Linked DNA regions of Homo sapiens: region 2 is linked to region 1. The links come from fine-mapping of genetic effects on gene expression. A gene starts in region 1. The other region holds a variant in brackets. All regions are shown on one strand. Distances are from middle to middle.

What was found. PIP is the estimated chance that this variant, and not a neighbour inherited with it, causes the effect.
Region 2: its variant is the best candidate, but not a certain one, in a credible set for the expression of VAV3 in left ventricle (GTEx, PIP 0.73).

What each region holds. Positions count from the first base shown.
Region 1 is chr1:107,962,701-107,968,221 of GRCh38, reverse strand. It overlaps VAV3 (vav guanine nucleotide exchange factor 3), which reads left to right and starts at 3,042. Exons shown (of 27, transcript NM_006113.5): 1 at 3,042-3,556. The coding sequence starts at 3,353. It overlaps VAV3-AS1 (VAV3 antisense RNA 1), which reads right to left and starts at 3,779. Exons shown (of 3, transcript NR_046653.1): 1 at 3,718-3,779. RefSeq lists enhancers at 2,256-2,325, 2,261-2,555, 3,902-4,031.
Region 2 is chr1:107,832,310-107,837,309 of GRCh38, reverse strand. All of the region lies in intron 2 of VAV3 (vav guanine nucleotide exchange factor 3), which reads left to right. Among named protein-coding and RNA genes, the nearest start is that of MIR7852, 62 kb to the left of the region's middle. The variant A/G (reference allele first, on the strand shown) is at 2,859.

The DNA.
Region 1 (5,521 bases):
CCACAAAAATTAACCAGGTGTGGTGGTTTGTGCCTGTAGTCCCAGCTACTCAGGAGGCTGAGGCCGGAGAATAGCTTGAACCCGGGAGGCGGATGTTGAAGTGAGTCGAGATCTGCTGCACTCCAGCCTGGCTGACAGAGTGAGACTCTGTCTCAAAAAAAAAAAAAAAAAAATTGTAAAGGGAAAAGACTGTAATTTTTTCCTTTAGTAAGGATAACTCAGGTGAGAAGCCCATTGCATTTTTATTGCACCAATTTCTGACACTTAAATGTCTTTCACGAGTCACCTATTGGCACTTAGCTCCTTGTTTACGTGAAGAATCCCGTGTCTCCACTAAACTCCTTCCCTTCTAGGCCTTCCATATATTTTCCTGTTGCCTTTCTATCAACTCTGTGGTTTACTATATTTGAGAAGCATTATGTTTTGAAGTCATATATTATATACAGAGAAGTGAAATAGAATATTTGGTCGTTGTTGCCACTTGTTAATGAAAAGTGGCTACTATTGGGTAATATTTATTGAGCTCTAATTATCAGGCACCACACATTCTATGCATTGTATCAGTGCTTCTTGGCTTTTGATGGAAATACATGGGATATGGAGATCTTAAAATTCAGGTTCTGGTTCATTCAGTATGAGAGTAGAGGCCAAACGTCTACAGTGCTGACAAGTTCAAGGGTGATGCTGCTGTCCACAGGCTGCATTTTGAATAGCAAGACATTGTACCATTTGATCCTGACAACAACCCTATTAGTTAGAAATTACTTCTTATGGCCAGGCACGGCGGCTAACGCCTGTAATCCTAGCATTTTGGGAGGCCGAGGCGGGCGGATCACGAGGTCAGAAGATCTAGACCATTCTGGCTAACACGGTGAAACCCTGTCTGTACTAAAAATACAAAAAAAATTAGCCGGGCGTGGCGGCCGGCGCCTGTAGTCCTAGCTACTTGGGAGGCTGAGGTAGGAGAATGGCGTGAACCCGGGAAGTGGAGCTTGCAGTGAGCTGAGATCGCGCCACTGCACTCCAGCCTGAGCGACAGAGCGAGACTCCGTCCACCCCCCACAAAAAAAAAAAAAAATTTCTTATTTCGTATCTATGGAAACTGAACTGTAGAGAATTTATCCAAGGTCATGTTGCTAGAAAGCAGTACAGCTCGGGCTCTAAATCCAGATTTGCGTCCTGGGATAGTGTATATAATGTGGATTTTGGAAATATTCTCCAACATCCAAAGGTGATCTGATGCTACCTGAAAAAAATTCATAGTTTTAGTTTAAATTTTGACCCGTTTAATGAAATTTCTTTTTAATTTCTCTTTATGAAAGACTGTGTTAAATGGTGATTCAAATGTGTTGGATTTTGCTTCTAAAGGTATGTAGAGATTAGTATGATTTATTTGCCAAAATTATGGCCTAGAAAATGTCGTGCTATTGATGGAATCCGCATTGAACACAAGAGGAAATTGCTAGGGAAGGATGCGTGTGAGGAAAGGAAATCCTCAGGCTGATTTATTGTTCAGCGCTGAGTGTAAACAGTGTGCTATCCTTGTCACAGCCAAACGAAAAAGGACGCAATCACTATCCTGAACAGATCATTCTTTTAAAAATAATATTTTGGCCTGCTTATAAAGCATGGTTCGTAATAAAAAATTTGGGCTACAGAAATATAATACAATTAAATTATCCAAACTCCCATCTTTTTGTTTGTTTGTTTGTTTGTTTTTTGAGACAGAGTCTGGCTCTGTCGTCCAGGCTGGAGTGCAGTGGCTGGATCTCAGCTCACCGCAACCTCCGCCTCATGGGTTCAAGCGATTCTCCTACCTCAGCCTCCCGAGCAGCTGGGACTACAGGTGCGTGCCACCACGCCCGGCCAATTTTTTGTATTTTTAGTAGAGACGGGTTTTCACCGTGTTAGCCAGGATGGTCTCGATCTCCTGACCTCGTGATCCGCCCGCCTCGGCCTCCCAAAGTGCTGGGATTACAGGCGTGAGCCACCGCGCCCGGCCTATTTTCTAATTTTAAGTGAATGCATCTCAAAAGGGTGACGAAGGACCACATTCCTATCGAACAGCAATAATTCACTGTGGCAATATCTTGCCACAAATAATTTAAACATTAATTGTGGTTTTGAGGGGCAGTGTGCAGTGGGAGTAAAAGGGGTAGGGTTTAGAGTCTCCAAAAGATTTACTTAAGAAACACGAATGCACTGCTTGTGCACTGCGCAAAAGTTCTGGGGTCAAGTTCCAACTTTCACTAAGGATCCCAGAACAGCCCGGCAGGAGCTGCCCAGGGCTAACGCGCTTTGCTCTCAAACCCGGCCGCCAGTCGCCGACGCATGCGCAGTCTAGCACCGTGGCACAGGCCTTTCTCAAGCAGGTTTTTGTGGGGTCAGCAAAAGGGCCAGAACAGCAACGGCAAACAGTTCCGAGCCTGACAGTGCAGGGGCAAACCAGCTCCAAGTGAAAATCACCTCGCGAGGAAATAGGCTCAGGGATCGGGGCGGTTTCCGCAGGCGTCTCCACACACGCACTCTCACTCACTTTGAGGGTGCCAAAACACCACTAGGGGCAACTAGGAGGAATAGGCTGAGGAATCAGCTATAGAGAATGGAGGGGATAGAGCTGCAAGGGGCGAGGGGGCGACGATCTCTAAAACTTTCAGCGCCGTGCTCTACTGATGCTCTAGGCACTTTTTTCATTGCTCTGGGGAGTCTGGGTGCCCCAATTAATCCGTCGCTCCTTTGAGCATTTGTTGTTTAGGGGGTCCTGGGGGACCCCATCGTATTACAGTATTCAGCCACACTCCCCGCAAAGCCGGGAAGCCGCCCCGAGAGAAGACCCCAGGACGCCGGGGGCTGCGTGAGCCCCGCAAGGCTGCAGGCGGGGGCGCGGGATCCCCTTTCTGGCCGCCGCCCCCCTCCGCCGGCCCCTCCCCCGCGCCCCGCCCTCGGCCACAGACCCCAGCCCCGGCCGCCGGCGCGCTCCCACCCGCGCGTCTGGGGACTTGCGGACCGCAGCGAGACCGGCCGGCGTGCTGGGCATGCTCAGTGGCGGGCCGGGCGCTGGAGTCGGAAGCCTGTGCGCGGCAGCCGCCGCCGAGCCGGCCGGGGCGCACGGAGAGCGCGCGGGACTCGCTGCAGCGGCGGCCGGGTCGCGGCGCACCCGGGCCGGGACCGGAGCCGAGCCTAGCGCGGCGCCCGCGACCCGTCAGCCGCGGCTCCTGCTCCCTCGATCCCGCGCGGGGAAAGGGCCGGCGGCTGTTGGCGTCGGCGGGGCGCGGAGGAACCGCGGCGGCGGCGGCGGCGGCCGCATCCTTGCCGCCCGCCCCGGCCCAGCCGCGTCCCGGAGCCGTCGGGCATGGAGCCGTGGAAGCAGTGCGCGCAGTGGCTCATCCATTGCAAGGTGCTGCCCACCAACCACCGGGTGACCTGGGACTCGGCTCAGGTGTTCGACCTTGCGCAGACCCTCCGCGATGGAGTCCTGCTCTGCCAGCTGCTTAACAACCTCCGGGCGCACTCCATCAACCTGAAGGAGATCAACCTGAGGCCGCAGATGTCCCAGGTGAGGAGGCCGGCACGGGCGCCCCGCCTCCAGCCGGCAGCTCCCATTAATCATGCGGCTAATTTCTTTGTGTAAATGCAAACGTCTAGGTGCGCTGAGCTTGCCCTGCTTCCCAGCCTTCTGCTTTGGGACCACTTCGGCACCACTTTGGCGTTTCCTACCTTGGCTTGAAATGGTTTAGCTCCTCAAGCTGAATGCGAAAGCTTTGCGTCCGGAGATGGTGTGAGGATTTCGTAAAGGCTTTCTGTGAGGCGGGAAAGAAATAAGTTGTCTTAGGGTGCCCTTCACCTACTCTGCGTGTGTGTGGCGCGACAAAGGGAATTTGATCAAGCTCTTCTATAATAACGAAGGGGAGGGACGAAACGAGGTGATGGGGTAATTTGCCTTTAGTCTCTTCTTTTGCTTTGCGTCTTGTACTCATGTTTTCCTAAAAGAGGAACCATGACATACATGAGGACTCGAGGAAGTGAAGGGCGTTTGGTCCCGTTATCTGTCCAGGAGTGACATTGGTCAAAGGGAAGAACAGGGAGCAGAACCCGGAGGCCGCCCCCAGGGCCCCTGAGCTGGTGGCCAGCCGGCAAGCTCCCGTTTACAGCTCTTCCTAAGCCATGTGAGAAGGAGCGAGTCCAGCCTCTCTCAGCAGCGACAGGAAATGAGAAGTTTCACTAGAGATTCCGCTTTCCTTCCTGCAGTGCCCTGCTCAGGTGCTGTGGTGCCGGTCGGCTCCTGGGGCTGGAGCTGCCTCTTTGAGGGTTAAGCCAGACACCTCTGGAAGGTTGGGTGCACCCTAGAGTCAGCTCAAAAGTCACAGTTCAGTGGAAGAGTAGTTTATTTGTCCTGTCGGAAAATTTTTGTACAGAAGGATGTTAAACTCGGTTCAGAGCCTCTTTCTCTTTCAGAATGTTAAAACAAAACAAAAAACCAAACTGCTTTCAACTTAAAAGGGAGAGGACAGAGCCCTCTCCCTGACACATTTCAGCACTAATCCTCTATGACGCAGAGCCTCAGCTACTTAGCAACCAGAGCAGCGCCTTTTAAGAAGGAACGGACTTTATATGATTTAATAAGTATGTATTTAAAGTTAGAGCACACACAGTCATCTGTGATTCTTGGTGTCAGTGTTTCATCAGGGTCCCCTGCACTTCAGATTCTGCATTCCTTGCCTGTTTGCCTTCAACCTGCTGGTGGGCAGTCCCTAAGAAAGAACAGGCATGGAAGTGGGGAGAGCCATACGTATTTAAAAGTGAGGTAAATTATTTTATACCCCCATAAACATGCATGGTGATTGCTACCTCTCGGTACCCCTTCAGAGTTGTCTCAACTCTGGAAATTCCTTTGAGGGGTTTGGCAGACTTTTCTATTATGGTGGGAGCTGCAGTTAGCTACTCTCACACATCCCCATTTTCCACTTTGCCTGTAGCCTCAGGAGGCAGCGTGGGTCAGGATGCCTTGGCCCACCAGTAGGGAGTACAGTACTGTGCACATTTCCTGGAACTTGTTTCCTGGAACTCTCAGCAGTTGCTCTCAATAATCACGTTTTCTGGACAGCTGAAGACCTTTTTAAACCTCGAAGCCTTTATTTGAATGCTAACAATGGATGAGAATCGTTTTGAATGTGTTTCACTCTTCTCCTCTTATGTTAGATGTAATTTAATCTTTCTGATGACCAAAGATTGTCATTATAAGCATCATTAATGAAAATTGAGCACATACAATGCTCTAAGAGTTCTGTTCCCTAGTGGGGGTAGCAAAATGAGCACACCAGGATACTTGCCCTAAAGGAATTATTACACTATGCTATCAGATGGTAAATCACTGGGTTATAATAAGGTAAGTAGGACAGCTAATGACCTTCTTTGTGCCGTTGCACTTTTGAGTTCTTAAGTCTGTTCAACCTTGAGGTTTCTGGTTCCAAATTAAGTACAGTTTCTCCTGTAATGTCCTATGAGAGGGTGCTTCCCTCAA
Region 2 (5,000 bases), 130 kb after region 1:
TTAGTTCTATTTATGTGGTGAATCACATTTATTGATTTGCATATGTTGAACCAACATTGCATCCCAGGAATAAGGCCTCCTTCATCATGGTAAACTAACTTTTTGATGTGCTTCTAGAGTTGGTTTGCTAGTATTTTGTTAAGGATTTCTGCATCTATATTCATCAGGGATATCAGCTTGAAGTTTTGTTTCGTTTTGTTTTTTTTTGCCCATTGTTTCTCTGCCAGGTTTTGGTATTAGGATGATGCTGGCTTTGTAGAGTCAGTTAGGGAGGAGTCCTTCCTCTTTGATTTTTTGGGAACAGCTTCAGCAGGACTGGTACCAGTTTTTCTTTGTACATCAGGAAGAATTTGGCTGTGAATCCACCTGTTTTTTTTTGTTGGTAGGTTTCTTATTACTGATTCAATTTCAGAATGTGTTACTGATCTGTTCAGGTTTTCAATTTCTTTCTGGTTCAATCTTGGAGGTTGTGTTATTCTAGGAGTTTATATATTTCCTCTAGCTTTTCTAATTTGTATGCATAGAGGTATTCATAATAGTCTGAGGTTCTTTTATGTTTTGGTAGGATCAGTGGTAATGTCATCTGCCATTTTTGATCATGCTTATCTGTATCTTTTCTGTTTTTGTTCATCTAGACAGTGGTCTAACAATCTTATTTATTCTTTCAAAGAACCAACTTTTGTTTTTGTTGACTTTTTAGATGTGTATTTGCATCTCAGTTTCATTTAGTTCTTCGCTGATTTTATTTCTTTTCTTCTGCTAGTTTTGAGCTTGTTTTGTTCTTGTTTTTCCAGTTCCTGTAGGTGCAGTGTTAGATTGTTAATTTGAGAACTTTTAAACTTTTTGATGTAGGCATTTAGTGCTATAAACTTTCCTCTTAAAACTACTCTCATTATATCCCAAGTATTTTGGTATGTTGTAATTCTGTTTCATTAATTTCAAAGATTTTTTGATTTCCACCTTCATTTTGTTGTTTACCTTAAAATCATTCAGGAGTAAGTTGTTTGAATTTATTGAGACTTGCTTTATGGCTAAACATATGGTCAATCTTAGATTATGTTTTGTGTGTAGATGAGAAGATTGTATATTCTGTGATTGTTGGGTTGAGTATTCTGTCAATGTCTATTAGGTCCAATTTGTCAAGTGTTAAGTTTAAGTCCATAATTTCTTTGTTAGGTTTCTGCCTCGATGATCTGTCTAATGCTGTCAGTGGAGTGTTGACATCTTTCACTATTATTTTGTGCCTGTCTTTTCGTGGGTCTCTAAAAACTTGTTTTATGAATCTGGATGCTCCAGTGTTAGGTGTATATATATTTAGGCACCATGCCTGTGTTTCCCTAGCCCTAAGGAATGTCCTAATGGGCTGTGCTTCCCCTTCCCTTAGGGGCAGCCTGAGCTGAAGGTTAGATTGCCAGAAACCTGCAGAATTCCGGAGGTCTGCTGGTCCTCTGTGCTTGGCACAGTCAGAATGGGTTGTGGAGTATGTCCATAGGTGGTCTGTTGATGTAAGAGGTCAAGGGTGGGGGATCTTTGGGCAGAGCAGTGATGCTGTGGCTGTGCAGATGGTATGGTGCCTATGGGCCGGGGTTTTTTGCCCTGCAGACAGCTGTGGGGACCTCCAGCTTGCTCTCCATTGACTGATCTCCTTCTGGTGGCTACTGTAGAATCTGTCCCTACCTGCTAGTTTTTTCCCAAACTTTCTTTGCCCAGATCATTGGGCTGTTAAGTGTTCTAGGCCATGAGGCTACATTGGGCAGAGGCTGCAGCTAGCAGATAGACCACACTGTTCCCAGACCAGCCCCGCAGAGGGAGGCATGCCCAGCTCTCACACTGGCCCACAAACCGCACATCTCACTCTTCTCAGTGTTCAGAGTGGGTGCTCTTTCCCTGCTTGAGGACCAGCCATAGATCTCAGCTTGTCACTCCTGAGCCATCTGCTCTAACCTGGGGGGTTGCCACAAGCCTGAGGCTTTGTCCTTTAGCTGCTTGGCACCAGCTGTGCTAGGGTAGCCATAGTGCTCCTAGGCCTCCAGGAAAGCACTCATGTGGGGCCATGGCAAGGCACTGAGGCTGGGTAATGGAACCTGTGCGGTGTGCATGCTCTTGTGGGAGCAGCCAGGCAGGGGCCTTGATAGCGGCTGGTGGACAGGGGAGCATGCAGTACAGATGTGCCCCAGTCCTGCAGAAAATATAGCCCTACTCTCTCCTGGCCTAGCAGTCAGCAGGGGTTACAGCTACTTGGAGGAAGATGGAGAGCCTTGAATGATGGGTGCTTATTAGAGCATTTTGCTGTAGCTGCCCTATGTGTAAAACCCCTGGGTTCCATGCAGGCTGGAGCTCTGTCTCTTTCTACTCTCTGGACAGATGCCCCTGTCAGTTCAGAAGCCTGTGGGGGTCATGGGATCTCCTGTAGCTAGGATCCCAGAGGTCCATGGTGAGAGTAGGTTGTCCCACAGTCACTTCACTCACTTCTTCCTTAGGAGCTGTTCAAGGCCAGGAACTAGTCCTGGCATTCAGCAACCCCATGCAGAGTTCCCAGCTTCCTTCCTCATCAGCCCTGGTGTTTGCATTGCCTCTCTATTGACTCTCATTGCTTTCTCTCCAAAGATCTGTTCAAAGTATGTTGGTTTACTCAATATTTTGGTCTCTCTTGGTGGGAGAGGGGCTTCCTGGCTGCATCTAGTTGGCCATCTTGTCCCCATTCCTCCCATTAAGGTATGTTTTGTGGCCTGGAATGTGGTCTGTCATGATGACTATTCCATGTGAGCTTGATCAGAATGCGTATTCTGCTATTGTGTAGAGTTATCAAATAACTTGATCTAATTGACAGTACTCCAGATTGTCAATTGAATATTCCA[A/G]TTTCCTGTAGTTATTTTCCTGTGTCCTTACTGATTTTATGCAATGGAACATTTTTAAAATTCCTGCCTTAGAGCACTGCATGGGGCCCAGTGGTTTAAGAGTTATGAGAGCTAATCCTGAAGGGGGCTAATTTATGACTTGACAACAGCAGAGACATTGGGTACTAAAGACATTCAGAACAGGTATATGTGGTTTTGGAATAATTTACGGGTGTATCATGCATTTATTTCCCTTTAAGAGATGTTTCTTCTGTGTGTGTCCATAAGGGTGCAATTTTTAAATGTAAAATGGGTTTATATATGGCCACACAAAATTGCATAATGAGAAAACAAGAATTATTTACAGCAAATTGTTGACTGTAGTTAAAACACCTGGTTCTGCTTTACAGTTCTCTATAGTTTCTAAATATCTTAAAGTGAGTGAAAGTGTTTTACTTTTGAAAAAGAACTAAAAGTATGTTATGGTTTATTGAGATCTGATACTGTCTCATGTGAGCAATGAACCTAAGGAGTGGACACTGTGAACAAAATTGCATGCGAGTAAGCATTGCCATGGCTAGTGCTTGATTACTTGTAGTAGTCAAGGAAGAACTTGAATGGAATTATTAATTACGATTCATGTAATAATTTTAGCACCATTTTTGAAGCCACCCTTGTCATCCAAGTGACTCCCTAGACCTTTGCTAGCTTCACAATAACAAGAACATTTCACTATTGCTTGGTGGGGTTACAGGGAGTGAAATAGGCACTGACCACACGTCATAAACACACTGTATAATTGATTCCTGAATATTCAGAACTCATCCCTTGAAAAAGAGTATGAACTTTTGGAAAAGATAAACCTAGAATGTTGTAGGTAAGTATAGACATACATAAGTAAAAATTAGAAAAAAAAATTTCTAAAATTTTGTTAGTCTCAGTTATAAGTGAAAAAGTATAGAAGAGAGATTTGAACAAATACGTGATAATATTTTCTTTAAAAAGGATTGGTCTAACATCATTTTAAAATTATGTTATGAAGATGACTTCTTTCTTAAAACCTTATGAACCAACCTCTGTTAGCTTCAAACTTTTCTTCTACAGTTTCCTCACCTTTCTCAGCCTTCACAGAATGGAAGAGAGTTAGGGCCTTGAGTTATGTTTTGGCTTAAGGGAATGTTGTGGCTGATCTGATCTATCCAGACCACGAAAACTTTCACTGTGTCAGTAATAAAGCTGTTTCACTTTCTTATCATTTGTGTATTTACTGGAGTAGCAGCTTTAATTTCCTTCAATAACTTTTCCTTTACATTCACTACTTGTCTAACTGGCACAAGAGGCCTAGTTTTTGACTTGCCTCAGCTTTTGACATGCCTTCCTCGCTAAGCTTAATGTAAATGTTAATGCTTGATCTTCATAATTATTTTATCTTTATGATTTTTTGCTATGATTTTCTAGTTGCGAAAAAAATCATGTATTTCTCATTAGATTTTCACTGTTATATCAAACTTTTTAAAACTTTTGATAGTGAAAATTCCAAGCACACAAAATAGAATAGTATGGTTCTTTGAATCATAGACCTTTTTCTAGCATGAATGCATTCAATTAACAATGTGTGTATGTTATTTGCTCTTCCTAACTTATGATTCAGCAGTTTACATTTTGTACAATGTAATCAATGGCTTACATTTTCTACAGCGTTACTGTTTTTAAAATTTCCATAGCTTAAATATGAATATTGAAGCATCAACACTTTGGAAAACATAAATTAATTGCAAGGTAGACACAAGGGGAGCCATTTCTACCGAGGTGTTAAAGACACCTATTATACTACATCCTGGATATTAGACAGTTGGAAGAGTTCATAAATTAAAAAATAAGCTTTAGTAATTTGGAGTTTGTGTTTTAAATTATTTTATAAAAGACTCAGATAGAAATGAAAATGATGATTTTGAAAATGCTGCCATGAAGAAATAGAAGGCAGTCAGTGGGACTGCCTTTTGGATTGCTGTGAGACTCGCAGGTCATTGTTCAGACTGTTAAAGACCCGGTCCACGAATTCCAAACATTTTCGAAGGTTCTTCCTGTTCTTATCATTGTAACTGCTCTGCCGATGCATTTGCTGACTCTCCAGGCACCTGCTTGTTCACAGTGAGTCTATAT